Linked DNA regions of Homo sapiens. The protein of the gene in region 5 purifies or fractionates together with the protein of the main gene of each other region. This does not show direct contact. Each region holds a gene or a part of one and is shown on either strand. Other genes may lie near its edges.

Evidence for each region.
Region 1: the proteins of FAM131B (region 5) and NCAPH2 purify together in Homo sapiens (affinity purification with mass spectrometry; 2 studies listed by BioGRID and IntAct, with this or other methods). This does not show direct contact.
Region 2: the proteins of FAM131B (region 5) and MTNAP1 purify together in Homo sapiens (affinity purification with mass spectrometry; 2 studies listed by BioGRID and IntAct, with this or other methods). This does not show direct contact.
Region 3: the proteins of FAM131B (region 5) and ZNG1C purify together in Homo sapiens (affinity purification with mass spectrometry; 2 studies listed by BioGRID and IntAct, with this or other methods). This does not show direct contact.
Region 4: the proteins of FAM131B (region 5) and PRR14L purify together in Homo sapiens (affinity purification with mass spectrometry; one large-scale study listed by BioGRID and IntAct). This does not show direct contact.
Region 6: the proteins of FAM131B (region 5) and ADCK1 purify together in Homo sapiens (affinity purification with mass spectrometry; 2 studies listed by BioGRID and IntAct, with this or other methods). This does not show direct contact.
Region 7: the proteins of FAM131B (region 5) and SEH1L purify together in Homo sapiens (affinity purification with mass spectrometry; one large-scale study listed by BioGRID and IntAct). This does not show direct contact.

What each region holds. Positions count from the first base shown.
Region 1 is NC_000022.11:50,514,699-50,518,540, reverse strand, and holds part of NCAPH2 (condensin-2 complex subunit H2), read right to left. Parts: intron 2,822-3,842; exon of another isoform or gene 2,794-2,821; coding exon of another isoform or gene 2,767-2,793; intron 2,095-2,766; coding exon 1,993-2,094; intron 1,115-1,992; coding exon 1,059-1,114; intron 965-1,058; coding exon 880-964; intron 801-879; coding exon 732-800; intron 569-731; coding exon 489-568; intron 414-488; exon of another isoform or gene 409-413; coding exon 263-408; intron 1-262. UniProt on the Homo sapiens protein: Regulatory subunit of the condensin-2 complex, a complex that seems to provide chromosomes with an additional level of organization and rigidity and in establishing mitotic chromosome architecture.
Region 2 is NC_000017.11:73,235,135-73,238,976, reverse strand, and holds part of MTNAP1 (mitochondrial nucleoid-associated protein 1), read right to left. Parts: intron 3,502-3,842; 5' UTR 3,495-3,501; coding exon 1,982-3,494; coding exon of another isoform or gene 1,881-1,981; exon of another isoform or gene 339-1,880; intron 1-338. UniProt on the Homo sapiens protein: Critical regulator of mitochondrial DNA (mtDNA) abundance. Binds dsDNA throughout the mitochondrial genome without sequence specificity and controls mtDNA copy number by promoting its replication.
Region 3 is NC_000009.12:68,293,662-68,297,279, reverse strand, and holds part of ZNG1C (zinc-regulated GTPase metalloprotein activator 1C), read right to left. Parts: intron 1-3,618.
Region 4 is NC_000022.11:31,732,995-31,736,836, forward strand, and holds part of PRR14L (protein PRR14L), read right to left. Parts: intron 1-3,842.
Region 5 is NC_000007.14:143,359,834-143,364,136, forward strand, and holds the start of FAM131B (protein FAM131B), read right to left. Parts: upstream 2,881-4,303; 5' UTR 2,771-2,880; coding exon 2,743-2,770; intron 2,248-2,742; exon of another isoform or gene 1,873-2,247; intron 317-1,872; coding exon 207-316; intron 1-206.
Region 6 is NC_000014.9:77,798,467-77,802,966, reverse strand, and holds the start of ADCK1 (aarF domain-containing protein kinase 1), read right to left. Parts: upstream 2,859-4,500; 5' UTR 2,797-2,858; intron 1-2,796. UniProt on the Homo sapiens protein: Appears to be essential for maintaining mitochondrial cristae formation and mitochondrial function by acting via YME1L1 in a kinase-independent manner to regulate essential mitochondrial structural proteins OPA1 and IMMT.
Region 7 is NC_000018.10:12,978,929-12,982,770, forward strand, and holds part of SEH1L (nucleoporin SEH1), read left to right. Parts: intron 1-3,589; coding exon 3,590-3,747; intron 3,748-3,842. UniProt on the Homo sapiens protein: Component of the Nup107-160 subcomplex of the nuclear pore complex (NPC). The Nup107-160 subcomplex is required for the assembly of a functional NPC.

The DNA.
Region 1 (3,842 bases), on a different chromosome or scaffold from region 5:
CAGACTCCAGGCCTTGGGCTGGGGGGAGACAGCAGGGCCCTGAGCCAGGCACCAGGTCTCTGGCACTGAGACCATGTTAACTTGTAATCAAGGCACAGCAGATGGGTGGGATGAGCACCAGCCAACCTGTCTAGACTAGAGCAGGCACCCAGAGACAGGGAGCTCCCAAGACCAGAGGTGGCAAGCACAGGGCACCCCACAAGAGTCCAACCAGAAGACCCTCCCTTCCTTCCCACCAAGCCCCCCGCATCCAAGCCCTCACCCTTCTGGGTCCCTGGCATGGGGGAAACGCCCGCTGGTTCCATGGGGGACATGCCCTCTGGCTCCAACATGAAGGCCCCTCTGGGGTGGGGAACGCACGTGTTCATCCTGAAATCCTTCCGGCTGGCCAGGACCTCACCCTGACGGCTGTGCTGGCAAAAACACGCCTGCTGTAGAGACCCTTCCCAGGCAGGCCTCCCTCCCCGTCGCTGGGCTCAGATCCCTACCTGTACAGGGGATTGTTGTTCTTCTCCATTTCATCAGGGGCCACCAGGGCCATGGGCAGGAGGGGGATGATGAGGACCTCCTGCATGGAGGCCAAGGGTGGGTGAGCCAGGCACCCTTCCACTCCAGTGGAGAACAGGACCCACATGGGGCAATGACACCTTCCCACACCCCATCAGCTCAACACAGCCCCAGGGAAAGTGCTGACCTCACCCCAGCCTAAGAGGGGCCAGGCCAGGACTCACACTGGGCGTCTGATCATTCTTGAGATCCACGTTAGTCCGGGAGTCAGGGAAGTCATCCAGCGACAGGAACTGGAGGGAGACAGAGCTCGTGGGGGCGGAGCCCAGGCAAACACACAGTGGGCGGGGACCACATGCCAAAGAAACTCACCTCATTCTCTGCCTCCTGGGGGACCCCGGAGCTGGCAACCCCATTGGCCCTGTCCTCCTGCACCGAAGAGAGCTGCTTGGCCCGCCTGAGAGAGAAGCACATCCCGTGGGCATCCCAGGAGCTGCAGGGGCCTCCCTGGCCACATGCAGGGCAGCACAGTGAGTGGCTGCAGAACTCACCTCTTTCCAGAGATGAAATCAAGGGCCTGGTAGACGAGTGAGTAGAGGTATTCCACCTGGTGACCAGATGCAGGCAGTGAGGACCCAGAAAGGAGGGGCCCACCCCCAAGGCCTTCCCAGCTATCCATCGGTGCCCCCACGAGGCCTGGCCACCACCACCAAACCTCCAGTACAAGAAACCACCAATTTTGGTTCCAAAAATAATTCTCAAATCAAACCAGGAATCTCATGAGAATTACTTTACCAGCTGAGGCCACCCACATCTCTCCTCTGCCCTCTATGGTCCACGCAGCCGCGAGCGTGGCCTTCTCAACGTGTGACCCTGACAGCACTGTGGTTCCCACAGTGTGCCTCATCACACGGTCCTTGGTGGTGAGGCCCCTCGTGCTTGGCACCCACTCTGCCGACGGCCTGCAGCCCTGCTGCTCCTCCGCCCGTGTGCTCCCGCCAGCATCACCCCAGCCCCTCCTCCTGTCCTGGCCCTGCCCTGTCCCAGCTCCTGCCGCCACGGGGCCTGCAGGACAGAGCCCGTCACTCACTTCCTGTCCTTCTCCTCCACAGAACAGAGGCCCCACCGTGAGGGTGGTGGTTGTGGACTTTCTAGGTGCTGACAATGAGGCACCCACAAGTAGGGGACGGGGAAGGGGAAGGTGGGTGCAGGTGGCACCCTGGGCTGTGTCCAAGTGCACACAGCAGGTGTCATTCCCCCAAGACAACAGAGCCCAACAGCACAAAAGACCCTCCCTGCCTGGCTGTGCGATTTTAAATTAAAAATTGTTCTTGGTGTTGGAAGGTGCTGAGGAATTGGCTGAGACCTGAGGAGAGAGGGAGGTAGGTCACAGACGGGACGACCACTGCACCTGCCCCAGAAGGAGAGCCGACTGTGGTCCCACTGGCCACCAAAATGCCAAGACCAGCGTCAAGCAGGGCCCACCTTCTTACTGTAGACGCAGGCAGAGCCCTGGATCAACAACGCTGCCTCAATGAAGTTCATTGTGGTCTTGCCTTCGTCAAAAGAAATGCAGATCTGATCCAGCTGCAAGAAACAACACAAAGACAGGGGGAATCCAAGGCCCAGTCTGCACTCGCTTCTTCCAGGGCAGCCCCACCCATCTTTGGTCTCTGCCCAGCACCTCCCGAGACGGGCAGCTCTAGCTATGCTGTGGGCTCACCGGTTGTCCCTGGTATTTCGGGGCAGAGACAGGTCTCTGTGTTTCCCCCTACTTCCTATAACAAAAACCTGTTTTGGAAGTGGAAGGCCCCCAGGGCACACTGTCTACAAACAACCAGGGCAGCACAGCGGCTCCCTCCACAAGGCGCCAGAGGCTGACAGACTCCAGCAGGAAGATCCCCGACACAGAGAAGAAAAGGGAACCTCAGGGGTAGGAAAGGCAGAGATAAAATGCTGAGGTCTCCATCCTCTGAGCAGAGAACTCAGGAAACAGTTACAGGTGAGTCGCCATCCTTCCTCTGCTCCCCTCAGCCTCCCGGAGCCCCAGCTCCTCTGTCACCCCTTAAACGTCAGTGCGCCAGGCGCTCCACCCCCCGCCATGCACATTCCTTCATCCCATGCCCAAGCTGCCAACCATAAGCCAATGAGCCCCAAACCCAACCCGACCAGCTCTCTCTCCTTAGCTCTGGGGCTGCATTCATAGCTGTCCACAGAGTACATTCAAATGTCCCCAAACACTTTACTTCCATACTTTACCCAACATCTTCCCCAACGCTGGCTCATCTCCTGTATTCCTTCTCAGCAAATGACACTTTAAAAAAAAAAAAAAAAAAAAGGCCGGGTGCGGTGGCTCACACCTGTAATCCCAGCACTTTGGGAGGCCGAGGCGGGCAGATCATGAGGTCAGGAGATCGAGACCATCCTGGCTAACACGGTGAAACCTCGTCTCTACTAAAAATACAAAAAATTAGCTGGGCGTGGTGGCGGGCGCCTGTAGTCCCAGCTACTCGGGAGGCTGAGGCAGGAGAATGGCATGAACCTGGGAGGCGGAGCTTGCAGTGAGCCGAGATCGCGCCACTGCACTCCAGCCTGGGCGACAGAGCGAGACTCCGTCTCAAAAAAAAAATGTTTTTGTAGAGACAGGGTTTCTCTATGTTGCCCAGGTTGGTCTCAAACTCCTGGCCTCCAGTGATCCTCCTGCCTCAGCCTCCCAAAGCACTGGGATCACAGGCATGCACCACCGTGCCCAGCCACAAACGACACTTTGAAGCCCCTAGGTGTCTTTCCAGCTCTTCAATTTTGCATTTCCATCTGCCTGGAACACCGACCCCCAGCTGTCCCCACGCAAACTCTTTTTCAGAGCCCCTCCATTCCTGGGGCCTCTGTGCCGCTCCCTTAGTGTGATCGTGTCCCTTAGTGAACTGTGTGAGCAGCATTAGTGTAATTCCAGCCTTCTGTTCAGTGCCTGACACTGGTGTCCAGTAAATATTTGATGAACACATGCATAGATAATGTCAAAGCTAAGCCTGAAAAACGCAGAGGCTCACCAGACAGATGAAGGGAACGTGAAGGCAGCTAGCAGAGACTGGACACGTCTCTTCAGGAAAATGAGCATGATCTAAACATGGCCAAAGCATGGCGCGTGCTGGGGAGAGGCAAGATTTTAGGCACCATGGTAGCACGAAGGAGTGGCAGAGGCTGGGAAGCCATCCCCAAGGGGAGTCACTTCCATTAGCTCTTGAAGGATAAAGGGTGTTTGTCAGATCTGGGAGGAAGGGAGAGGAAACAGCAGCATGGTCGTCTACGGAGTGTAAGGACCTCGGGGGTGTTCA
Region 2 (3,842 bases), on a different chromosome or scaffold from region 5:
CAAAACTCTGTCTCAAAAAACAAACAAACAAAAAAACAAAACACACACACACACAGAAAAGTATGGCACTATAACAAACATGGTTTTAGTTATGGTGTATTTTCTACAACATGGTTTAGTGGAAAAGATTAAACTAGGCCTCAGGAAACTAGGTTCTCCTTGCAGCTCTACTATTTATTGGCAACACAAACTTGGACAAATCACTTATGCTCTCTGTGCCTGTTTCATCATCCACAAAATAGGATAAATTCACTCTGCCCACCTCTCTGTCCACCTTGTGCCCAAAATAAAAAAAATACAGATGGAGGCACTCTGAAAACCACAAAGCAACACAAATGTTAATATAATTAAATGTGTTTATTACGGAGAAGGGGCTTGACTTTGTGACTACAACTTTGTGCAAAAAGGTCTAGACGTTAGGCCTGTTTATAGAAGGTAGTTAAAGAAAATGTAGCTTTGGGCTAGCAATGTTCTGCTTTTAGTACACATCCATTTTGAGACCAGGCAAATAGAGGTTTAGTGAATATGAGATCATTTGCAAAATCTACCAGAGAAGAAAATGATTTCCCTTTAGGAAGAGATAATACCAGTTTTTCTCTTGCAAACCTATTCTGAGTTGTTACAGGTCTCCTGTCAAAATAAGCATGAAAGCACCAATGGCCACTACACACGACAGGTATGCTACTTTACAAACGACAGGTATGCTACTTTACAATCACCCTGCCCCTAGAAAAGCTTAAGAAACTTTATGTATTTTAACTAGAGAGGTGGTCTCATAACTAAAGATGAGATTCAGCAGAGAAAAGCAAAGATATTTCAAATGACTGTCAGGAACTTCCTGGCTCCTTGGGCCTTGGTCTTCCCTCCTGTTAACCGATTCCAGCCATCAGCAAAAGGAGCCTCTAGGAAGCTTCTGAAGTTTGATTCATAATCAAGGTGAGTTTCAACGTTCAGTCTTTCGCCCCAAGCCCTTCTCGCCTCATCTCTCCTGTTTCCAGGCTCAATCACTGGTTTTATTCTTGGGTCCTAGTCTCTGTGGCCTACATTTTTTCTTTTGTTTTTGGCCACATCCTCCGTTTCTGGTCCTTGATCTTCACTGTTCATTTCCTGAGCCTCCACTTCCACTTATCTGCCTTGCCTGCCCGTCTTACCTGGCTAGTTTTACCTGTGTCCTACCACCTGCATCCTACTTTGCTACTCTAAATTCCTAGATGTTGCATTTGCCTGAAACCTAGAACCTATTTCTTGTCCTGTAAACTTAGAACCTATTTCTTGTACAACCTGGTCCTGACTGGATTCTGAACACAGTGCTTATTCTATCTAGCTGAATTTCAAGTCTTTATATTTTTCTCCAGTCTGTTTACCCATCCAGTTTCTACTGGACATGCCTCTTCTCAAGGCAGAAACTCAACTGCTTTCAGTATCGCCAGCCTGCCCTAGTGTAACCCTCAACTCTTGGGGGAGAGAAAAAGAGAGGGATAAACCACCACTACTGACCACTGAAGCAAGAAGTAATGTTTTCAGGACAATTTTTTTTTTTTGAGACAGGGTCTCATTCCCGTCGCCCAGGCTGCAGTGAAGTGGCACATACTCGGCTCACTGCAGCCCTGATTTTCCGGGATCAGGTGATCTCCCACTTTAGCCTCTCAAATAGCTGGGACTACAGGTGCGCCACCACACCCAGCTAATTTTTTGTATCCTTAGTAGAGATGGGGTTTCACCATGTTGCCCAGGCTGGTCTTAACTCCTGAATTCAAGTGATCCACCTGCCTTGGCCTCAGCCTCCCAAAGTGCTTAGATTACAGGTGTGAGCCACTACACCCAGCCTCTTTCAGGACAACTTTATATGCAGTCTACTGGCATGCCTAGGTGAAAATAAACTAAATGACTGAAAATGTTAGTATTTTGACCCTTATAAATTCAAAAGGCAGAGAGAGCATTTTGGATGGGACAGATGGCAATTGAAAATAAGCTTGTTTACCTTGTGAGAGTCTTTCCCCCTGGGGACTGATAAGTTGTGGCTTCTGGGTCATTGCATTCCAACACTGAGGCTTCCCTGGCAACACCCCTAGTCCAAGGTAACCAGGATAGAGCTCTGGAAACCACTCCAGCCCCATGCAGCTGCGAAGAGTCTTCCTGCCAGCAGCTGCAGCATGATTGGTGAAGGGGCTCTGAGGAGTGTGACGCTGGGCTGAACATAAAGGGCTCTGGCACCCAGTGTGTGATGCTTGGAACTGACTATCAGATTTGGGCTCCAGAGATAACTGTCCCTCGGGACTCTCCATTAATGCCTTTACATCAGGGACACAATGATGATTCTGGGCTTCTGCTTTCTTTTCTTGAAGAAATGTTGTAGCTAGAGAGGCAAGACTTTGACTACTTGACTGCGATACAGAATGAAACTGGTAAGTCGTCTCCCTCGGAATGAACAAACTTAAATGTGGTCTTTCCCCTTGAGACTCCTTTCCTGTGACTGAATCCCTGGTGTTGAAGTTCTCACAGCCATGGCTCATGACAGTCCGTTCCTGCTTTTCTGTTGCAGACATACTTTTCTCTGCATTTCCTTTGCTCCCACACGTCTCTACTCCCAGGGTAAGTCCTTTCTCTTGTTTCTCCATGACTTGGATTTTACCTAATGAGCTCATTTTAAGGCTTAAAATGAGGGATTCTGTGTTCTTTTCTGGAGTCTCAGTAACTGTAACATCAGTAGGGACTCCTGAGAGGTGATCCCTGCCTTTGGAATCTCTCTCATTGCTTAATAATGTTCTTACCCTTTTAACCCCATCACTGACATTCTTTGGAGAAATATGACAATCACCAGTAGGCACATCTAGTAATTTTACTAGAAGTTCCTGTCTTTGGGGATCAATTTTGTCCAATTTGAGATCACCAGAGGTAGTTTGTACATCATTAGGTAGAGTTGAGGAATATTTTCTATCTTGATTTGACAAAGAAGGTTCTATTGAGCCAACCAGTAAAGACGCTCCAGCTTCTGAAGGATTACATCGACTTTCTCCTGATTTAGGCAAATCTTTGGCAAGTTCTCTTTTAGGAGAGGTTTTCTCTGATGCGTAAAACTGAGCCTTGGTTTCTTCTTGGAAAGTAGTCATTGGTTTAGTATTTTTTAACATTTTGAAGGATGGTTGGATTGGATTCTTGATGTCTTTATCTGCCTTTGTAGTAGCTGCTCTTTCCAAACCAACAGCTGGCAGTGGAAAGGTCTTCACTGTCTGTTCTGGTTTGTCCACCACCAACTTAGAATTTCTTTCTTCATTCTCTGTCTCTAACTCTTTCCCTTTAGCTTTAATTAAATCTTTGATTGGTCCTTTCATCTTTTTAGCACGTGGGAGTGTAGCTGGCTTGGACTGATAAACTTTTTGATCAGTAGGTATGGTTGGTCCTATCATCTTACAGTATGGCAAGTGGGATTTTAATCGTTTAAATGGCTTCTTACAGTAAGGACACACTTCCATTCTGGGTGGATTATCACTCATCCTATTCCTGAAAAAGGTAAATGTGAGATTATGAGAAGCACATAGTTTGTACATACCAATATTTTACTTATGTGTTGTATCTTTTAAATTCATTTGGAACAAGCTAGATGTTTGCTACTTACGGTTACAGCAAGTCAACTAGTCATTATATGAGTATAAAAAATTGTTTAAAAACCCTTAAACACGTTATTCAAGGACAGAATGGTAAAGAATAAAAAACTTAGGCCAGGAACCAAAGGTTATTTATTTATTTATTTATTTTGGAAACAGAGTCTCACTCTGTCACCCAGGCTGGAGTGCAGTGGCACAATATCTGCTCACTGCAAACTCCGCCTCCCAGGTTCAAGC
Region 3 (3,618 bases), on a different chromosome or scaffold from region 5:
TTCTCAGGAATAAGAATATATGTAACACATACAATGTACTCACTACACAGGGCCAGGTACTTTTGCCTGAGTCACCTCATTGTATCTTTTGACTTACTCTTCACAACAATCCTGGGGAGTGAAGATAACTATTTCATTTTATAAATTGGGGAAAATAAGGGTCAAAAAAATAAGCTACCCAGAGCCAGGAATAAAACTCAAAACCAAAGTAAATTTGTTCTCTTAAAAAAAAAATACAAAAGAAAGGCTTGGCTTATCTTTAACTGAATAAGCATGTGCCAAGAGGAGAAGAGTTCTTAGCGATGAGAATGATAGGATAATGCCCTCTTTGGCTTTAGTAAGGGTGACATCATCATGTATTGAATATTAACTTTAGGATTTATTTTTCTTCTTTATCTTGATAAATCTCTCACTGTCTACCCTAAAGAAACAGAAGCTTAACATTTCCTCTAACAGGTCACCTAATTAAAACCCAAACCTCCCTTTGCCAATATAACCCCAAATTTCAAACTCAGAGATGAAAATACACAAGGGCTAAGCATAACATTATAAAAACATACACCCCACCTTGGAAAATAGAGGCTCAAAAGCCAAGCTCAAAATGAATTTAAAAAGGTAGAAAATAATATACTAAAGCACATCTTTGCATAACTTCCTAGAACTGCGTATCTGGCCTAGCAATTTTACTCACCATTACATAATCATACAGGCTTACAGCAGAAAATACAAAAAGACCAAAAACTATTTTATAATCCAAACTCAAGAGAATCGCTAAAGTATTAAAGACCAATTTAGGCAGAAACATATGAGACATTTCTTTCTTTCCATAGGTTACTGGGGAACAGGTGGTGTTGGTTAACTTCTTTAGTGGTGATTTGTGAGATTTTGGTACACCCATCACCTGAGCAGTATACACTGCACCCAATTTTTGTCTTTTATTCCTCATCCCCTTCCCACCCTTTCTCCCTGAGTCCCCAAAGTTTATTGTGTCATTCTTATGCCTTTGCATCCTCATAGCTTAGCTCCCACTTATGAGTGAGAACATAGCGATGTTTGGTTTTCCATTCCTGAGTTCTTTCACTTAGAATAATAGTCTCCAATCTTATCCAGGTCACTGTGAATGCCATTAATTCACTCCTTTTTATGGCTGAGGAGTATTCCATTGTATGTATATATATCACAGTTACTTTATCCACGCATTGATTGATGGGCATTTGGGTTGGTTCCACGTTTTTGCAATTGCGAATTGTGCTGCTATAAACATGCGTGTGCACGTATCTTTTTTGTATAATGACTTCTTTTCCTCTGGGTGGATATCTAGTAGTGGGATTGCTGGACCAAATGGTAGTTCTACTTTTAGTTCTTTAAGGAATCTCCACACTGTTTTCCATAGTGGTTGTACTAGTTTACATTCCCACCAGCAGTGTAGAAGTGTTCCGTGTTCACCACATCCATGCCAACATCTACTATTTTTTTGATTTTTTTATTATGGCCATTCTTGCAGAAGTAAGGTGGTATCGCACTGTGGTTTTGATTTGCATTTCCCTGATCATTAGTGATGTTGAGCATTTTTCCATATGTTTATTGGCCATTTGTATATCTTCTTTTAAGAATTGTCTATTCATGTCCTTAGCCCACTTTTTGATGGGACTGCTTTTCTTGCTGATTTGTTGGAGTTCATTGTAGATTCTGGATATTTGTTCTTTTTCAGATGTATATATTATGAAAGATTTTCTCCTTCTCTGTGGGTTGTCTGTTTACTCTGCTGACTTTTCCTTTTGCTCTGCAAAAGTTCTTTAGTTTAATTAAGTCCCAGCTATTTATCTTTGTTTTTATTGCATTTGCTTTTGGGTTCATGAAATCCTTGCCTAAGCCAATGTCTAGAATGATTTTTCCAATGGTATCTTTTAGAATTTTTATAGTTTCAGGTCTTAGATTTAAGTCTTTAATTTATCTTGGGTTGATTTTTGTATACAGTGAGAGAGGAGGATCCAGTTTCATTCTCCTACATGTGGCTAGCCAATTATCCCAGCACCATTTGTTGAAAAGGGTATCCTTTTTCCACTTTACGTTTTTGTTTGCTTTGTTGAAGATCAGTTGGCTGTAAGTATTTGGGTTTATTTCTGGGTTCTCTATTCTGTTCCATTGGTCCATGTGCCTATTTTTATAACCGTACCATGCTGTTTTGGTGACTATGGCCTTATAGTATAAGTTTGAAATCAGGTAATGTGATGCCTTCAGATTTGTTCTTTTTGCTTAGTCTTGCTTTGGCTACGCACATGTGTATGTTAAACCATCCCTGCATCCCTGGTATGAAACCCCTTGATCATGGTGGATTATCTTTTTGATATGTTGTTGGAATCAGTTAGCTAGAATTTTCTTAAGGATTTTAGCATCTATGTTCAAGGATATTGGTCTGTAGTTTTCTTCTTTGGTTATGTCCTTTCCTGGTTTTGGTATTAGGGTGATACTGGCTTCATAGAATGATTTAGGGAGGATTCCTTCTTTCTCTCTCTTGTGGAATAGTGTCTTTAAGACTGGTACCAATTCTTCTTTGAATATCTGGTGGAATTCTGTTGTGAATCCGTCTAGTCCTGGACATTTTTTTGTTGGTAATTTTTTAATTACCATTTCAATCTCCCTGCTTGTTACTGGTCTGTTCAGGGTAATTCTTCCTGATTTAAGCTAGGAGGGTTGTATCTTTCCAGGAATTTATCCATCTATTTTAGGTTTTCTAGTTTATGCATGTAAAGGTGTTCATGGTAGCCTTGAATATCTTTTGTATTTCTGTGGTGTCAGTTGTAATATCTCCCGTTTCATTTCTTATTGAGCTTATTTGGATTTTCTCTCTTTTCTTGGCTAATCTTGCTAACGGTCTATCAATTTTATTTATCTTTTCAAAGAACCAGCTTTTTGTTTCATTTATCTTTTGGATTTTTTTGTTGTTTTGTTTCAATTTCATTTAATTCCGCTCTGATCTTCTTTCTTCTGCTGGGTTTGTTCTTGTTTCTCTAGTTCTTTGAGATGTGACCTTAGATTGTCTGTGCTCTTTCCAACTTTTTGATGTAGGCATTTAGGGCTATGAACTTTCCTCTTAGCACCACCTTTGCTGTATCCCAGAGGTTGATAGGTTGTGTCACTATTGTCATTCAGTTTGAGGAATTTTTACATTTCCATCTTGATTTCATCTTTGACCCAAAGATCATCCAGGAGCAGGTTATTCCATGTATCTGCATGGTTTTGAAGGTTCCTTTTGGAGTTGATTTCCAGTTTTATTCCACTGTGGTCTGAGAAAGTGCTTGATATAATTTTAATTTTCTTAAAATTTATTGAGGCTCATTTTGTTGGCTATCATATGGTCTATCTTACAGAAAGTTCATGTGCTGTTGAACAGAACGTATATTCTGTGGTTGTTGGATGGAATATTCTGTATATATCTTTTAACTCCATTTGTTCCAAGGTATAGTTTAAATCCACTGTTTCTTTGTTGACTTTCTGTCTTGATGACCTGTCCAGTGCTGTCAGTGGAGTATTAAAATCCCTCACTATTATTGTGTTGCTGTCTGTCTAATTTTTTAGGTCTATTAGTAATTCTTTTATAAATTTGGGAGCTCCAGT
Region 4 (3,842 bases), on a different chromosome or scaffold from region 5:
TTTTTTTTTTGAGACAGAGTTTTGCTCTTGTCACCCAGGCTGGAGTGACAATGGTGCAATCTCGGCTCACTACAACCCTTTCTTCTGGGTTCAAACTATTCTCCTGCCTCAACCTCCCGAGTAGCTGGGATTACAGGCGACCGCCACACGCCCGGCTAATTTTTTGTATTTTTAGTAGCGATGGGGGTTTCACCAGGTTGGCCAGGCTGGTCTCGAACTCCTGACCTCAGACCTCAGGCAATCCACCCATTTCGTACTCGCAAGTGCTGGGATCACAGGTGTGAGCCACCGCGCCTGGCCACTGTTTTTTTTTTTTTTTTTTTTTTTTGAGACGGAGTCTCGCTCTGTCACTCAGGCTGGAGTGCAGTGGTGCCATCTTGGCTCACTGCAACCTCCGCCTTTGGGGTTCAAGCGATTCTCCCGCCTCAGCCTCCCAAGTAGTTTGGATTACGGCCATGCATCACTGCGCCCAGCTGATTTCTGTATTTTTAGTAGAGACAGGCTTTCACCATGTTGCCCAGGCTGGTCTCGAACTCCTGATCTCAGGTGATCCACCCGCCTCGGCCCCCCGAAGCGCTAGGATTACAGGCCTAGAAGTCTATCTTTTAAGGCAGGTTTCCTTAAAGTGTTCGGTGAACAGGTCGAGGCACCAATAGTTTTGTTAAATGTTGCCAAACTGCTCCTCAGAAAGGTTGTATCAGTTTGCATTCCCACCAGCAATGTATTAGAATGTCTGTTTCCTCATAGCCTTGCTTGAACCAGATACGTTGTCATACATTTTCATTTTCACCCATCTGATAGTCAAAAAGCGACACCCTTAAATCAAAGGGAAAAAAGTGGTATCTCTGGTTAACTTTGCATTTCTCTAATTACACGAGGCTGACCATCTCTTATGTTTAACCACCACCACCACACACACACACACACATACACCACACAAACACACACACACACAGTTCATTATCAAGTCTTCCCATTTTTTTCTTTTTCTTTTTTTGAAAGGGAGTCTCACTCTGTCGCCAGGCTGGAGTGCAGTGGCACAATCTCGGCTCACTACAACCTCTGCCTCCCAGTTTCAAGCAATTCTCCTGCCTCATCCTCCCGAATAGCTGGGACTAAAGGCATGCACCACCATACCCAGCTGATTTCTGCATTTTTAGTAAAGATGGGGTTTCACCATGTTGGCCAGGATGGTCTCAATCTCTTGACCTCATCATCCTCCCGCCTCAGCCTCCCAAAGTGCTGAGATTACAGGTGTGAGCCACCACACCTAGCCCAAGTCTTATCATTTTTCTATTGGGTTTGGTTCTTCATTCCTCAATTCAAGAGTTCTTCATGTATTACAGATATAGACCCTTTATCTCTGATATACATTGCAAATATGTTCTCTCAATTTGTCAGCTGTCTTTTGACTGTGGGATATTTTGTCAATATAGCAAGAGCTCTTATAAATTGAGATCAGGGGATGCCTGGGGTTTGCAAATCTGAAATGGTATGCAAGTGGTATGTCTGCTTTTCTGAAAGGTCTGCAGTGTTCAGATTTCCAAAGGGTCCTGTGACCTGAGAGTGATTAGGAGCTGTTGCTGCTGCCCCACATCTTCCACTGGCCTAACTGTGCCCCACAGGACCACTTCTGCTGAATGACCTCTAAATTGCTGAAGGCTTCTCTCACGTCTCTTGACTGTTCTCTTTCACAAGTTACACACCCAATGACCTGGCCTCCAGATGCATATTTTCAGGTTGTGTCATTAGTGTGAATACTTATCCATGAATGCATTCCTGGTTTTCTATACCTCTCACACACATGACAACAACAGGAAAGTATAATACTCTAGCTGTGGCCTAACCAGCACACAACAGAGCATGACCACCACTTCTCAGTCCAGATAACACATTTCCCTTAATGATATTAAGAGCAAATTGGCTTTTCCTGGAACAAAGTCAATTCTAATTGACCTGCTAAAACCTGCAGGTCTTCCGTTTCCCCTTTCCCCGTAAGTATTTCTGTTTCTTTTCAATTGTGGAGATCACTTTTTGAAACTGAGTACAAAATGTTAACATTTATATCAATTAAATTTCATTCTGCTTTATACAATTCAAAATGGAATATACACTGGTGGAGCTGGGAGGGAGAAAAGGAATGATTTTAAAAAAGAACAGGGTGGCGGGGCGCGGTGGCTTGCGCCTGTAATCCCAGCACTTTGGGAGGCCGAGGTGGGCGGATCACGAAGTCAGGAGATCGAGACCATCCTGGCTAACACGGTGAAACCCCGTCTCTACTAAAAAAATACAAAAATTTAGCCAGGCGTCATGGCGGGCGCCTGTAGTCCCAGCTACTAGGGAGGCTGAGGCAGGAGAATGGCATGAACCTGGGAGGTGGAGCTTGCAGTGAACTGAGATCGTGCCATTGCACTCCAGCCTGGGTGACAGAGCAAGAATCTGTCTCAAAAAAAAAAAAAAGAACACTGAGATAGTAATCTAGTTCTTAGGTTGATTGTTATGTAAGCATGTGTATGTATATGTATGCATATATAAACACATATATACATGTGTGTGTTCATTATACTTTATGTGTATTACGCATGCTTTTATATCAAACATTACATTAAAAAACTTTTCTCTCCTGAAGTGGCAGGTCCCTAAATTGGAAAAAAAAAAAAAAAGAAACTTTTCTTGTTAGACTCAGCCCACCACATCAAGAAGTAACACAATAGGAACTCTGGGATCCTTAGCCTTTTACCTATTTAACTGTATTTTTAAAAGATAGGGCATTGGCCGGGCGCAGTGGCTCACCCTGTAATCCCAGCACTTTGGGAAGCTGAGGTGGGCGGATCACCTGAGGTCGGGAGTTCGAGACCAGCCTGACCAACATGGTGAAACCCTGTCTCTATTTAAAAAATACCAAAAAATTAGCCGGGCATGGTGGCAGGCACCTGTAGTCCCAGCTACTCAGGAGGCTGAGGCAGGAGAATGGCGTGAACCCGGAAGGCGGAGCTTGCAGTGAGCTGAGATTGTGCCACTGCACTCCAGCCTGGGCAACAGAGCAAGACTCCATCTCAAAAAAAAAAAAAAAAATTAGCCAAGTGTGGTGGTGCATGCCTGTAGTCCCAGCTACTCAGGAGGCTGAGGCAGGAGAATGGCGTGAACCTGGGAGGCGGAGCTTGCAGTGAGCTGAGATTGCGCCACTGCACTCCAGCCTGGGCAATAGAACGAGACTCCATCTCAAAAAAAAAAAAAAAAAATTAGCCGGGTGTGGAGGCACATGCCTGTAATCCCAGCTACTCGGGAGGCTGAAGCAGGAGAATTGCTTGAACCCAGGAGGTGGAGGTTGCAGTGAGCTGAGATCGCACCATTGCACTCCAGCCTGGGCAATAAGAGCGAAACTCTGTCTCAAAAAAAAAAAAAAAAAGGCATCACAGTGTAAACTCAAATATCATGTTCAAATGTTACTTAATGCTTCATTCATTCCTAATCATAGTCACTGTATGAAGCCCACTAACAACAATTAACTGCCCTTTATCCTGTGTAAAGAAAAGATATATGTATCAAGAGCGGGATGGGAGCCTAGCCTAGGCAGCCCAAAGAACATATGAACCTGATGGTGGGTCTAGAGCAGGGGTTGGCAAACCACAGCCCTCAGGCCAGCAGCCTGTGCTAATAAAGTTTTATTGGAATACAGCCACATTCATTCATTTATGTATTGCCTCTGCCCACTTTATGCTACAATGGCAAAGCTGAGTTGTTCCAAAAGAGACCATATGAGGCCAGGCATGGTGGCTCCTGCCTGTAATCCCAACACGTTGGGAGGCTGAGGCAGGTGGGTCACAAGGTCAGGAGTTTGA
Region 5 (4,303 bases):
CTCAGAGGGCCTTCCAGGAGTGCGGGATGTGGGGAGGGCTTTCCTGAGGTTGATGCCGCTAACTGGGTTCTCCATGTGGACTGCTTGGCATGTGTTGTGAGAAATGTTCTGTAGAAGTGTCAGTCTGAAGGAGTGTTTGGGTTGTTGCCTTGGAATTGAGGAAGTGCAGGCAGCCAGAGACTTGGGGTGGCTGAGTGAGGTCTCACCTCAGTCGATGGCCGATGGAGGCTGCTCCCGTGCAGTGAGCTGGTGCTGTCCATGTTGATTTGATCGACATCCTTCAGGCCCTTCCAATCCACTGCAATCACCTCATTCCCTGAGGGGGCCAGAAGGTTAGCCGCCGGCCCTCACCTCCCTGTGCAGCCGAGGCGACACCCTGGGGCCAGCCCTTCACACCCCTTCCTTACCCCAGCTGCCCATTTCCTCTTATATCCCTGCACTCTCCAAATTCTAGGGGAGACAAGTAGTAATGCTGAGCCCAAATATTCAGTTTTAGCTCAACCCAGAATAGTGCACTCAGAAAAAGTGATGTATGGCCTTATTTGTTGTTGTTTATGTGGAGGGGTCAGAGGTTGGGTTTTATCAGAAAACCAATTATTCCGTCCTGAGGACTCTTGGAGGGTTTCTGTATGGGAGCTGGGCTTTTTCTCTATTACAAGTCTACAGATAAGGGCAGAGCTGCTCTATGAGGAACTTTTCTCTATGCTTAGGGTGGAAGGGATGTGTCTCCCCCGGTGGGCCCTTCCTAAGAGTCCATGAGTCTGACTGACTGGAAGAGGACTTCCTGGGAATCGAGGCAGGAGTTGGATAGCAAGGAGTTGGGTGTGTCCTCCCAAAAACAGTGAGCAGAGAAACCAAGGGTGAGCTGGAGGCATTTCACCTGACTGTGGGGAGAGAAGTGATGGATTAAAGTGGAGGGAAGCTGGTGAGCAGGAGGAGAAAAGAGAACTTTTTAAAATAGGAATTAAGAAAATAGGAATTCAAGTCAGAGAGAAGACAGAAGATGGTGGGAGGGGTGGACAGGGTCTGAGGGCTGAGTGGGAAACTGCAGGACTCAGGGGAAGGAGGGTCCTTGTTACAGCCGGGCCAGAGCTCCTGGTGGAGGGAGACTCCTGGACTGAGGGCAGGATGGTGCCGCGGAGAGTCTTGCGGAAGAACTGCTTGGGTCTTCATAAAGGGACTATTCAAGCAGCAGATGGCTGCCTGAACCATCTGACCGTACAGGCCCTTTATACTCATGAGGTTTTACAATTGTGAGTTTAGGGGTCGGCTCCATTTTTGGGAAGGGGAGCATTGAATGGGGCTGGGCACGAGGAGGCATTCAGCACATCAGCAGGGCTGGGGGAAAGGAAGGGGCTTGTGGTGAACCGGACTGAGGAGGGAGGACCCTCCAAAGTTGGCCTGCTGTCCCCTGGGGCTCCGCGGGGTGGTGACTGGGGGAAAAGAGGAAAGATGGCCCTCCGGACACAGCAGGAATGGGGCAGGTGGAGAAGAGCCTGAGGAGAAGGGAGACAGGGGAGGGCGGGGTGCGGGGGGAGAGGGGAGCGGGAGGTGGCCTTTGTGAGAGACGGAGAGCTGAGTCAGAGCTGTGGGGGGCAGCGGGGAGGGAGAGAGCCGCGGAGAAGGGGTGAAAGCAGAGGAGGAGGGGGTATCCATGGAAATAAACCGGGTCTCAGGGAAATCAGGCTTCTGGAGAGTGAGTTTGTTTGTAATAATAATACGAATTATTCTCTCAGCCTGAGGTCACCGGGAGGTGTAGGCGGGAGAAATTGGGAGTTGGAAAGGGGAAGAATGGGGGAGGGGGTGGGAGAGGGCCGGATGAATTCGCTGAGCGGCGAGAGTGGAGTGGGTGCCTGGGTGGGGGTCAGGGGCGGTAGCCAGGCAGAAGCTGGAGGGAGAAGATGGATTAGGAGGCGCCTCTCTTCCCTCCCCGCGTCAAAGGTAAATAAAGAGCCGGCCCCGCCCCGCCGGCCCCCGCTGACAGGTGCAGGCGGGTCCCCGGCCGCCGAGGCAGGGCCGGCCCCACCCTCCCGGGCCGCGGGCTCCCGACCCCTCCCAGCGCCTCGAAGCCCCCATCTCCTCCCCGCGTCCCCCAGCCCCTTCCCTCCACCCGGCCCTGGCCCTGTCCCTCCGGGCGTGGAACCCGGGCTCATCCCGCCCCCGCCCCAGAGGGAAAACGCACGTGAACAAAGCGAATCGGAGGAGGCAGGAACGACAGTAAAAGGCAACGGAGAGGGAGAGAGAGATGGGGCAAAGCACCCGAGCCAGATGGAGGCGGCGGCGGGGGGTGGCGTGGGGGGCGTGCGAAAGAAACTCGGGGCTGGCGCGGAGGCCGAGGGTCCTTCGCGGGGGGCTGCTCCGGAGTGGGGGATGCGAGGAGGCGCTGGGGACGGCGGAGCAGAGGCGGATGGCCTGGAGGGGCAGGGATGAGGGGACCGAGCGTCGGGCCGAGAGGCAGAGGAGAGGAGGGCGATGGAGAGGATGGAGAGGACCGCGCCTGCGGGAGGGCGACGGGGAGAAGGAAGCGAGCCGAGCGGGATGGCAGCCCCGGAGGCGCAAGACGAGAGCGGGCAGGAAGGAGGGACAGAGGGACCGCGGGCGGACGGAAGGAAAGTGAAGGAGCTAGCAGGGCAAGGCGGGTGCGGAGCGGGGCGCCCGGAGGCGCGAGGAGAGGGATGGGGGAGGGGGTCGGAGGGCGGCCCGGGGGGCCCAGCCCTGCCCCCGCCCGGCCGCGGTACCCACCCACAGTCCGGGAGCCGATGCAGCCCATGGCTCCGGGGGCCGCAGAGCCGGGCCCTCACCGACTCGGGGCGCGCGCCGGGGGGAGCACCGGGAGCCGCGCCGCCGCCCCAGCCGCTCTGCAGCGCCGCGGCTGTCTCCGCTCGGCTCCGCTCCCCCCTCCCCTCTCCATCCCTCCCCACGGCAGCTCCGTCGCCGCCGCCGCCGCCGCCGCCGCCGCCGCCTGGCTCCCCCGCCCCGGCTCGGCTCGCCGCGGCCGGGGAGGGGGCGGCCCGGGGATTGGCTGCGCCCCGCGCCTCCCCGCCCCTGCTCCGGCCGTGCCGGGGCGCTCCCTCGGGGATCTGGGGCCGCCGTCGCCGCCCCCCTCCTCCCGCCCGTGCCAAGCCCCGCTCCCGGGGCTCTCTCCTGGAGAACCCCGGCTTGGGTTTCAGGAGCCGAGGCACGAACCCAGGGCCTACCCCGAGGTTCTGGTTGATGGATTTTGCGGGCCGGGGTCAGGGGATGCCCTGAGAGAAAGTGGGGTGGTGGTGAGAATAAAGCCAGGCCCAAGGGCCTTTGGCCACCAAATTCCGCAAACACTTGTTTTCCTCCTGGGGCCGCATCTGGGACACACACAGGAACGTGATTGGACACAGCTTTGGGCTCTGTTGTTTCGAGTGCGCTATTTTGTCCATCCAAACAGAAGGTGAAGTCTTTGCAAGTGAATCGTGTAGTCCACTTCTCTGTGCTCGCTGGACATTCAGGGGTGGGTGTGGGGATGTGCAGATAGTTGACCTCCAGGCCTGGTTGGGGATTGGAGAATATGAGGAGGACAGTTCATTCGCAGTAGACTAACAACAATGTCAGGACCCGAGGCTGGCTAGGAGACATCGTCTTGAATCCAGTTTAACTTTTCTGAGACGTGATCTTCTCGGACAAATGAAAGCAAGGCGGTCCCGAAGCAGCAAAGAGAGAGAAAGATTGGCCTCTGGCTAGTGGGACTGGGCCAGGTAGATACCTCAAGCCCCATGGGGAGGAGATGAAGGTCTAAGTTGCAAGGGTTAAATGAGCACTGTGGTTACAGCAGGTAAGAAGTGGAGTCCAGAAAAGATGCATGAGAAAGGGCAAGGAGACCCTTTTGTCTAAGGTGTACCCAGAAAGCCCAAAGTGTGAGAGAGTGGGCAGGTGGGCATTCACAGAAGCAAGTGCCCATCCAGGCTCTGACTGCACCTCGCCCACTTTTAGGTCTCTCCGAGGTTGCAGAGAGAGAAGGCAATGGGCCAGGGGTCCCTGGTGTGGGCTCCTAACAGGGAGGCTAAGTCTTATGGATGCAACTTTCTAACCTTTAGATTATGAATGGAGAGCTACATCCCATGGGGTGGCAGATGAAGATGTGCAAGAAGAAGACACTAACAACTGAATTGCAGATTGAGGAGATGAGATTATGGTGACAGAATCCATCTTCGGTGTATGTGCATGAAGAAATAAGCCAAATCTACATCTATAAAACCGCGGGAAGGAATGAGATAATAATCAGTTGCAGGTCTGCTTAGATTTTAATCGTTTAGTGTAGTTCGTGGCAGGG
Region 6 (4,500 bases), on a different chromosome or scaffold from region 5:
ATTTATTTATTTTGAGATGAAGTCTCATTCTGTCGCCCAGGCTGGAGTGCAGTGGCGCAATCTCGGCTCACTGCAAGCTCCGCCTCCCGGGTTCCAGCCATTCTCCTGCCTCAGCCTCCTGAGTAGCTGGGACTACAGGCACCCGGCACCACGCCCAGCTAATTTTTTTGTATTTTTTTTAGTAGAGACGGTGTTTCACCATGTTAGCCAGGATGGTCTCGATCTCCTGACCTCGTGATCCGCCCGCCTTGGCTTCCCAAAGTGCTGGGATTACAGGCGTGAGCCACCGCGCCCGGCTAGGAACCAAATTTTAATCAAACTCCCTTTCCTAGTGTTTGATGCCTAAGCACTCAAGGTCCTTAAATCAATGTTGATTAAATAAAGGAATCCCGGGAGGCTGAAGCAAGAGAATTGCTGGAACCCGAGAGGCAGAGGCTGCAGTGAGCCAAGATCGTGCCACTGCACTCCAGCCTGGGCGACAGAGCAACACTCTGTCTCAAAAAATAAAAAAAGGAATCCCTGACTGATGCCAAGGTCCCAGAATAGACAACAAAAATAATTCTCACCCAGGCAAGGAATAGAAATCCTCCATTCAGTCCATCCTAGGAAAGGCAGACTGAGGGAGAATAGGGCAAAGCCAGATGCAAAGAGCAAGCAGCAGGTAAGAGAAGAGAGTGAGCTTCCAACGGGAGAGCTACAGTACCAAGCACTTATTAGCTCATTAACTCACACAACCAGATTCCGAGGTGCATGCTATTAGAGCTTCAATCTATGGATAAGGAAGTGGTGTTTTAGAAAAGGTAGAAAACTTGGCCAAGGAGCTGGTAAGTGATGGAGGCAGAACTTGAATCCATGTATGACTGCTCCCACCAAGAGAGCAAAAAGTGCACAAGAACAAGCAGCTTGCTGGGCCCTGAAATAGGCCACTGGAGTCCCTGCAACATGGAAACCTTAACCCAGGAGGCATATTTAGTGAGTTACCCTGGTGAAGAAATGGATGGCTGACCCAACTAAATTTTTTTTTTTTAGACGGAGTCTTGCTCAGTCGCCCAGGCTGGAGTGCAGTGACACGATCTCGGCTCACTGCAGCCTCCGTCTCCCGGGTTCAAGCTGTTCTCCTCCTCAGCCTCCCAAGTAGCTGGGACTACAGGCACACACCACTACGCCCAGGTAATTTTTTTGTATTTTTGGTAGAGATGGGGTTTCACCATGTTGGCCAGGCTGGCATTGAACGCCTGACCTCAAGTGATTCGCCCACCTCAGCCTCCCAAAGTGCTGGGATTACAGGTGTGAGCCACCGCACCCGGCCCCAACTAATATTCTTACAGGTCCTTTGTCTGACAAGAAAATGACTGCATAGCAGAAAGTAAGAATATGCACACTCTTCTAGTACAGATCAAATCGCACATCCCTGAGGCCAGTTGAGAAATGGCCAAGCAAAGAATGACCCAATAAGGTAGAATATGATGTAACCAGGAAAAATGACAAGTATAGACTACATTAAAATCTGTATATAAATTAATATGGAGGGAGTTAACAGTGTACAAAGTAATATGCACATATTTACAATCACCAAAAAAGTAAAACTGGCAAATAAAGACAGAAAGACCCGTAACCAGGTGTGAAGAGATAGTGCTTTAAGTTCACAGGATTTTTTTTCCTATAAAGCAGTGGTACTCAACGTATGGTCCCCAGACCAACAGCAACTGCATCACTTGGGTGCATGTTAGAAACGCCAATTCTTGGTCCTCATACCAGACTTACAGAATCAGAAACTTTGGGGATGGGGTCCAGTACTGTGTGTTGTTACTAGCTCTCCAGGTGACTCTGGTGCATGCTAAAGTTTGAGAACCACTGTAGTAAGAAAATTATTTTATTTATTTTCCTTTTTTTCTTTTAATACAGACGGGAGTCTCACTATGTTGCCCAGCCTGGTGTTGAACTCCTGCCCTCAAGCAATCCTCCCATCTTGGCCTCCCAAAGTGCTGGGATTACAGGCATCAGCCACCACATCCAGCCCCAAGAAAATTATTAAATAAAACATATGAAGCCACAGATAAAGTCTAATTCACTTCAACTCTGCAAATATTTCTTGAGCACCTACTAAGTGCCAAGTATCATGGAGGTAAACAATAAATACTTGTTGAATGACTTTCTTGTTAGTAGAAAGTAAATGCCACTTAACCCTGGGAGAGGGCTGTTCTAGGTGTCTTATCTAAAGGTTGCTCTCCACACACACTGGCTGCTGTTAGCACATATCTACTGTGTGATCTGGAAGCCCAGGGCCCTGCAAGATGCTGGAGATAAGCAGCGGTCTGGGGCACGTTCGCAAGACCGGGTGGAGGGCCAGGATATGGGCATCGCCCCCTGCTCTTGCCCAGACCACGCTCCAGCTCCAGCTGCTTCTGCCTCGGAACTCACAGGGCCACCAGGGGGTGAAGGCGTCTGGGTGAGCCACCTCCGGCCCTCCTCCAGCTCTGCCCACTCGGGTGCCTGCAAGACTGTGCCACTGAAGTGGACAGGTCACATGAAAGCCCACTGGTGTGCCAAACTGGAGAAGTCACTGCAGGGGGGCGGGGCAATGCGAGTCACCCGAGCCACGTGGCCGCGCGCCGGGCCCAGGTGACAAGGTCATGGGGCTGTCCCTCCCGGCGCCCAGGGCGGCTGCACAACCGGAGCAGAGGCCGACTCCCGGCGTGTCCATGCCGGTTCCCTCGCGCTCCAGGCGCGGTGCGGCCCTGCCAGGCTGGTCGGCCCGAGCTCTGCGCCGGCCTCCGGCGAGCTGCCCCTACTCACCCCGAGGGAAGCAGAGCCGCGGCGCCCGGCTTCCGGCCGCAACCCGGTAGCGGGGAATTAGCTGGGAACCGTGCGGGGACAGCCACCTGACTGCGCTTAGTGAAGCCGAGGCGCGCGCGGCCTGCCGGGACTTGTAGTTCCTGGTTCCCCACGCCGCGATCCCGCGGGCAGTACTGTGGAGGCACAGGGGTCTCGGGCTTACTCCGTCAGGTGGCCTTGTTGCTTTGCCAGGGCGACGGACTTGGAATATTACTGAAATATTTTCTTCAAGACATTCTAACTACGTCCCAGGTTCGTGTTTAATGAAAGATGAAGTGGATTTGTAGATTTTTTTTTTTTGAGACTGAGTCTCGCTCTGTCGCCCAAGCAGTACAGCTAATTTTTGTATTTTTTTTAGAGATGGGGTTTCACCATGTTGGCCAAGCCGGTCTCAAACTCCTGACCTCAAATGATCCGCCCGCCCAAAGTGCTGGGATTACAAGAGTGAGCCACTGCGCCCGACCTCGTAGATTTTATTCATTCATTCATTCATTCATTCATTCATTTTGAGACAGAGTCTCACTCTGTCGCCCAAGCTGGAGTGCAGTGGCCCATCTCGCCTCACTGCAACCTCCGCCTCCCGGGTTCAAGTGATTCTCCTGCCTCAGCCTCCTGAGTAGCTGGGATTACAGGAGTGTGCTACCACGCCCTGCTAATTTTTTGTATTTTTAGGAGTGACGGGGTTTCGCCATTTTGCCCAGGCTGGTCTTGAACTCCTGAACTCAGGCAATCCACCCGCCTTGACTTCCCAAAGTGCTGGGATTACAAGCCTGAGCCACCTCACCGGGCCATAGATTTTAAATAAGATATTGGAACTAGTAGGCGAAGAAGAAATTTACTGACAATTGATGTATGCTGGCGGGGCGGTGGCTCACGCCTGTAATCCCAGCAGGCCAAGGCTAGCAGATCACCTGAGGTCGGGAGTTTGAGACCAACCTGACCAACATGGAGAAACCCCGTCCCTACTAATAATAGCAAAAATTAGCCAGGCCTAGTGGTGCATGCCTGTAATCCCAGCTACTCAGGAGGCTGAGGCACTAGAAACCCGGGAGGCAGAAGTTGCGGTGAGCCGAGGTCACGCCATTGCACTCCAGCCTAGGCAACAACAGCGAAACTCCGTCTCAAAAATAATAATAATAATGCTGGCTGGGCAGGACGCAGTAGCTCACACCTGTAATCCCAGCACTTTGGGAGGCTGAGGCGGGCAGATCACCTGAGGCTAGGGGTTGGAGACCAGCCAGGCCGACATAGTGAAACCCCATTTCTACTAAAAATAGAAAAATTAAGCCGGGTGCGGTGGCTCATTCCTGTAATCCCAGCACCTTGGGAGGCCAAGGTGGGCGGACCACTTGAGGCCGGGAATTTGAGACCAGCCTGGCCAACATAGTGAAATCTGTCTCTGCTAAAAATACAAAAATTAGCCTGGTGTGGTGGTGCACGTCTGGAATTTCAGCTACTCAGGAAGCTGAGGCAGGAGAATCGCTTGAACCCGGGAGGCGGAGGTTGCAGTGAGCTGAGATCACGCCACTGCACTCCAGCCTAGGCAACAGAGTGAGACTCTGTCTCCAAAAAGAAAAAAAAGAAAAAGAAAAATTAGCCCAGCATAGTGGCGGGCACCTGTTATCCCAACTACTCGGGAGGCTGAGGTGGGAGAATTGCTTGAAC
Region 7 (3,842 bases), on a different chromosome or scaffold from region 5:
CTTGCCTTCTGATTACCTTTGTTTGTGGAGGAGAGAGTAGAGGTAACTATGATTTGGTTTATATTTCTGCTCTGGAAGTTTTACTTAAAAATGTAAACTTTGAAATGTTTTTTAAAAATGGTCTTTTACAGTTACTTTTTTTTCTTTCTTTTTTTTTTTATTGATCATTCTTGGGTGTTTCTCCCAGAGGGGGATTTGGCAGGGTCATAGGACAATAGTGGAGGGAAGGTCAGCAGATAAACAAGTGAACAAAGGTCTCTGGTTTTCCTAGGCAGAGGACCCTGCGGCCTTCTGCAGTGTTTGTGTCCCTGGGTACTTGAGATTAGGGAGTGGCGATGACTCTTAACGAGCATGCTGCCTTCAAGCATCTGTTTAACAAAGCACATCTTGCACCACCCTTAATCCATTCAACCCTGAGTGGACACAGCACATGTTTCAGAGAGCACAGGGTTGGGGGTAAGGTCACAGATCAACAGGATCCCAAGGCAGAAGAATTTTTCTTAGTATAGAACAAAATGAAAAGTCTCCCATGTCTACTTCTTTCTACACAGACACGGCAACCATCCGATTTCTCAATCTTTTCCCCACCTTTCCCCGCTTTCTATTCCACAAAACCACCATTGTCATCATGGCCTGTTCTCAATGAGCTGTTGAGTACACCTCCCAGACGGGGTGGTGGCTGGGCAGAGGGGCTCCTCACTTCCCAGTAGGGGCGGCCGGGCAGAGGCGCCCCTCACCTCCCGGACGGGGTGGCTGGCTGGGCGGGGGGCTGACCCCCCCACCTCCCTCCCGGACGGGGCGGCTGGCCGGGCGGGGGGCTGACCCCCCCACCTCCCTCCCGGACGGGGCGGCTGTCCGGGCAGAGGGGCTCCTCACTTCCCAGTAGGGGCGGCCGGGCAGAGGCACCCCTCACCTCCCGAATGGGGCGGCTGGCCGGGCGGGGGGCTGACCCCCCCACCTCCTTCGCGGACGGGGCGGCTGGCCGGGCAGAGGGGCTCCTCACTTCCCAGTAGGGGCGGCCGGGCAGAGGTGCCCCTCACCTCCCGGACGGGGCGGCTGGCCGGGCGCGGGGCTGACCCCCCCACCTCCCTCCCGGACGGGCGGCTGACCCCCCCACCTCCCTCCTGGACGGGGCGGCTGGCCGGGCGGGGGGCTGACCCCCCCCCACCTCCCTCCCGGACAGGGCGGCTGTCCGGGCAGAGGGGCTCCTCACTTCCCAGTAGGGGCGGCCGGGCAGAGGCACCCCTCACCTCCCGGATGGGGCGGCTGGCCGGGCGGGGGGCTGACCCCCCCACCTCCCTCCCGGACGGGGCGGCTGGCCCCCCCACCTCCCTCCCGGTCGGGGCGGCTGGCCGGGCAGAGGGGCTCCTCACTTCCCAGTAGGGGCGGCCGGGCAGAGGCGCCCCTCACCTCCCGGACAGGGCGGCTGGCAGGGCGGGGGGCTGACCCCCCCACCTCCCTCCCGGACGGGGCGGCTGGCCGGGCGGGGGGCTGACCCCCCAACCTCCCTCCCGGACGGGGCGGCTGGCCGGGCGGGGGGCTGATCCCCCAACCTCCCTCCCGGACGGGGCGGCTGGCCGGGCGGGGGGCTGACCCCCCCACCTCCCTCCCGGACGGGGCGGCTGGCCGGGCGGGGGGCTGACCCCCCCACCTCCCTCCCGGACGGGGCAGCTGGCCGGGCAGAGGGGCTCCTCTCTTCCCAGTAGGGGCGGCCGGGCAGAGGCGCCCCTCACCTCCCAGACAGGGTGGCTGGCAGGGCGGGGGGCTGACACCCCCCACTTCCCTCCCGGACGGGGCGGCTGGCCGGGCAGAGGGGCTCCTCACTTCCCAGTAGGGGCGGCCGGGCAGAGGCGCCCCTCACCTCCCGGACGGGGCGGCTGGCCGGGCGGGGGGCTGACCCCCCCACTTCCCTTCCGGACGGGGCGGCTGGCCGGGCGGGGGGCTGACCCCCCCCACCTCCCTTCCGGACGGGGCGGCTGGCCGGGCGGGGGGCTGACCCCCACCTCCCTCCCGGACGGGGTGGCTGCCGGGCGGAGATGCTCCTCACTTCCCAGACGGGGTGGCTGCCGGGCGGAGGGGCTCCTCACTTCTCAGACGGTGTGGCTGCCGGGCGGAGGGGCTTCTCACTTCTCAGACGGGGCGGTTGCCAGGCAGAGGGTCTCCTCACTTCTCAGACAGGGCGGCCGGGCAGAGATGCTCCCCACATCTCAGATGATGGGCGGCCGGGCAGAGACGCTCCTCACTTCCTAGATGGGATGGCGGCCGGGCAGAGACGCTCCTCACTTTCCAGACTGGGCAGCCAGGCAGAGAGGCTCCTCACATCCCAGACGATGGGTGGCCAGGCAGAGACGCTCCTCACTTCCCAGACGGGGTGGCGGCCGGGCAGAGGCTGCAATCTCGGCACTTTGGGGGGCCAAGGCAGGCAGCTGGGAGGTGGAGGTTGTAGCGAGCCGAGATCACGCCACTGCACTCCAGCCTGGGCACCATTGAGCACTGAGTGAATGCAACTCCGTCTGCCATCCCGGCACCTCGGGAGGCCGAGGCTGGCGGATCACTCGCGGTTAGGAGCTGGAGACCAGCCCGGCCAACACCTACAGTTACTTTTAAATTAATGTCATTTTTGAAGAATGGATTATTTAATGAACATTTTATATATAAATATATGTCTTTTTGGAAAGGGGAATTGAGTCAAGAGCAGATTTATATTCTCTTAACTGTGCTTTATTTAGGCTGAAACTAACAATTCTCCAAATATAACTGATAATCTATAAATATTTAATGACAAGTGGCAGTCTATTTAGGGAAAACTAAATTAGTATTGAGACAGTCTTGTGAATAACATATTTAACTTTAATTTTGAATTGTGAATTTCAGTTCTTTTCTTTCCATTCTTTCATTCTTTCCTACTTGCTGCCCTGCCCATTTTTTTTTTTTTTTTTTTTTTTTTTTGAGGCAAGGTCTCACTCCGTTGCCCAGGCTGGAGGGCAGTGGCTTGATCTTGGCTCACTGCAACCTCCACCTCCCAGGTTCAAGCAATTCTCATGCCTCAGCCTCCTGAGTAGCTGGGACTACAGGCGCCCGCCACCATGCCTGGCTAATTTTTTATTTTGTATTTTTAGTAGGGATGGGGTTTCGCCATGTTGGCCAGGCTGGTCTTGAACTCCTGGCCTCAAGTGATCTGTCCACCTTGGCCTCCCAAAGTGCTGCGATTACAGGTGTGAGCAACTGCACCTGGCCTTGCCCTGCCTTTTTAAATTAATTATTGTCATCTATTTTATTCTTCTGCCTTGTGTGGGAGAATAAAATCATCCTGTTTTGTTGTTTCTTTCTTCCATGAAACAGTCACTGAGTATCATTTATGTGCTGGGATCACTCCAGGTCTTGGCGAGTTAAATGAAAATGACATTGGCCCAGCTCAAGGGCCAAGGTGTGGGGTTTGGGCAGATGTGCACATTATTATAAAGTGATGTGGTGGCGAGACCACTTGTATTAATTTAGAATTTTACGTGTGTATATATATATGTGTGTGTATATATATATGTTTTAAAACTTTGTTTGGAATGCCTCAGAAAATGTTTTTTATTAACAGGAAAGAACTGACTTCCTCTGGTGGGCCAACAAAGTTTGAAATCCATATAGTGGCTCAGTTCGATAATCATAATTCTCAGGTCTGGCGAGTGAGTTGGAATATAACAGGAACGGTGCTAGCATCTTCAGGAGATGATGGGTGTGTAAGATTGTGGAAAGGTAAGAGTTCAGTGAAGGGGTAATTGTTGGTTTATATTTCTGCTCTGCAATTTTTACTTAAAATGTAAACTCTGAAATATTTTTTGAAAATGGTC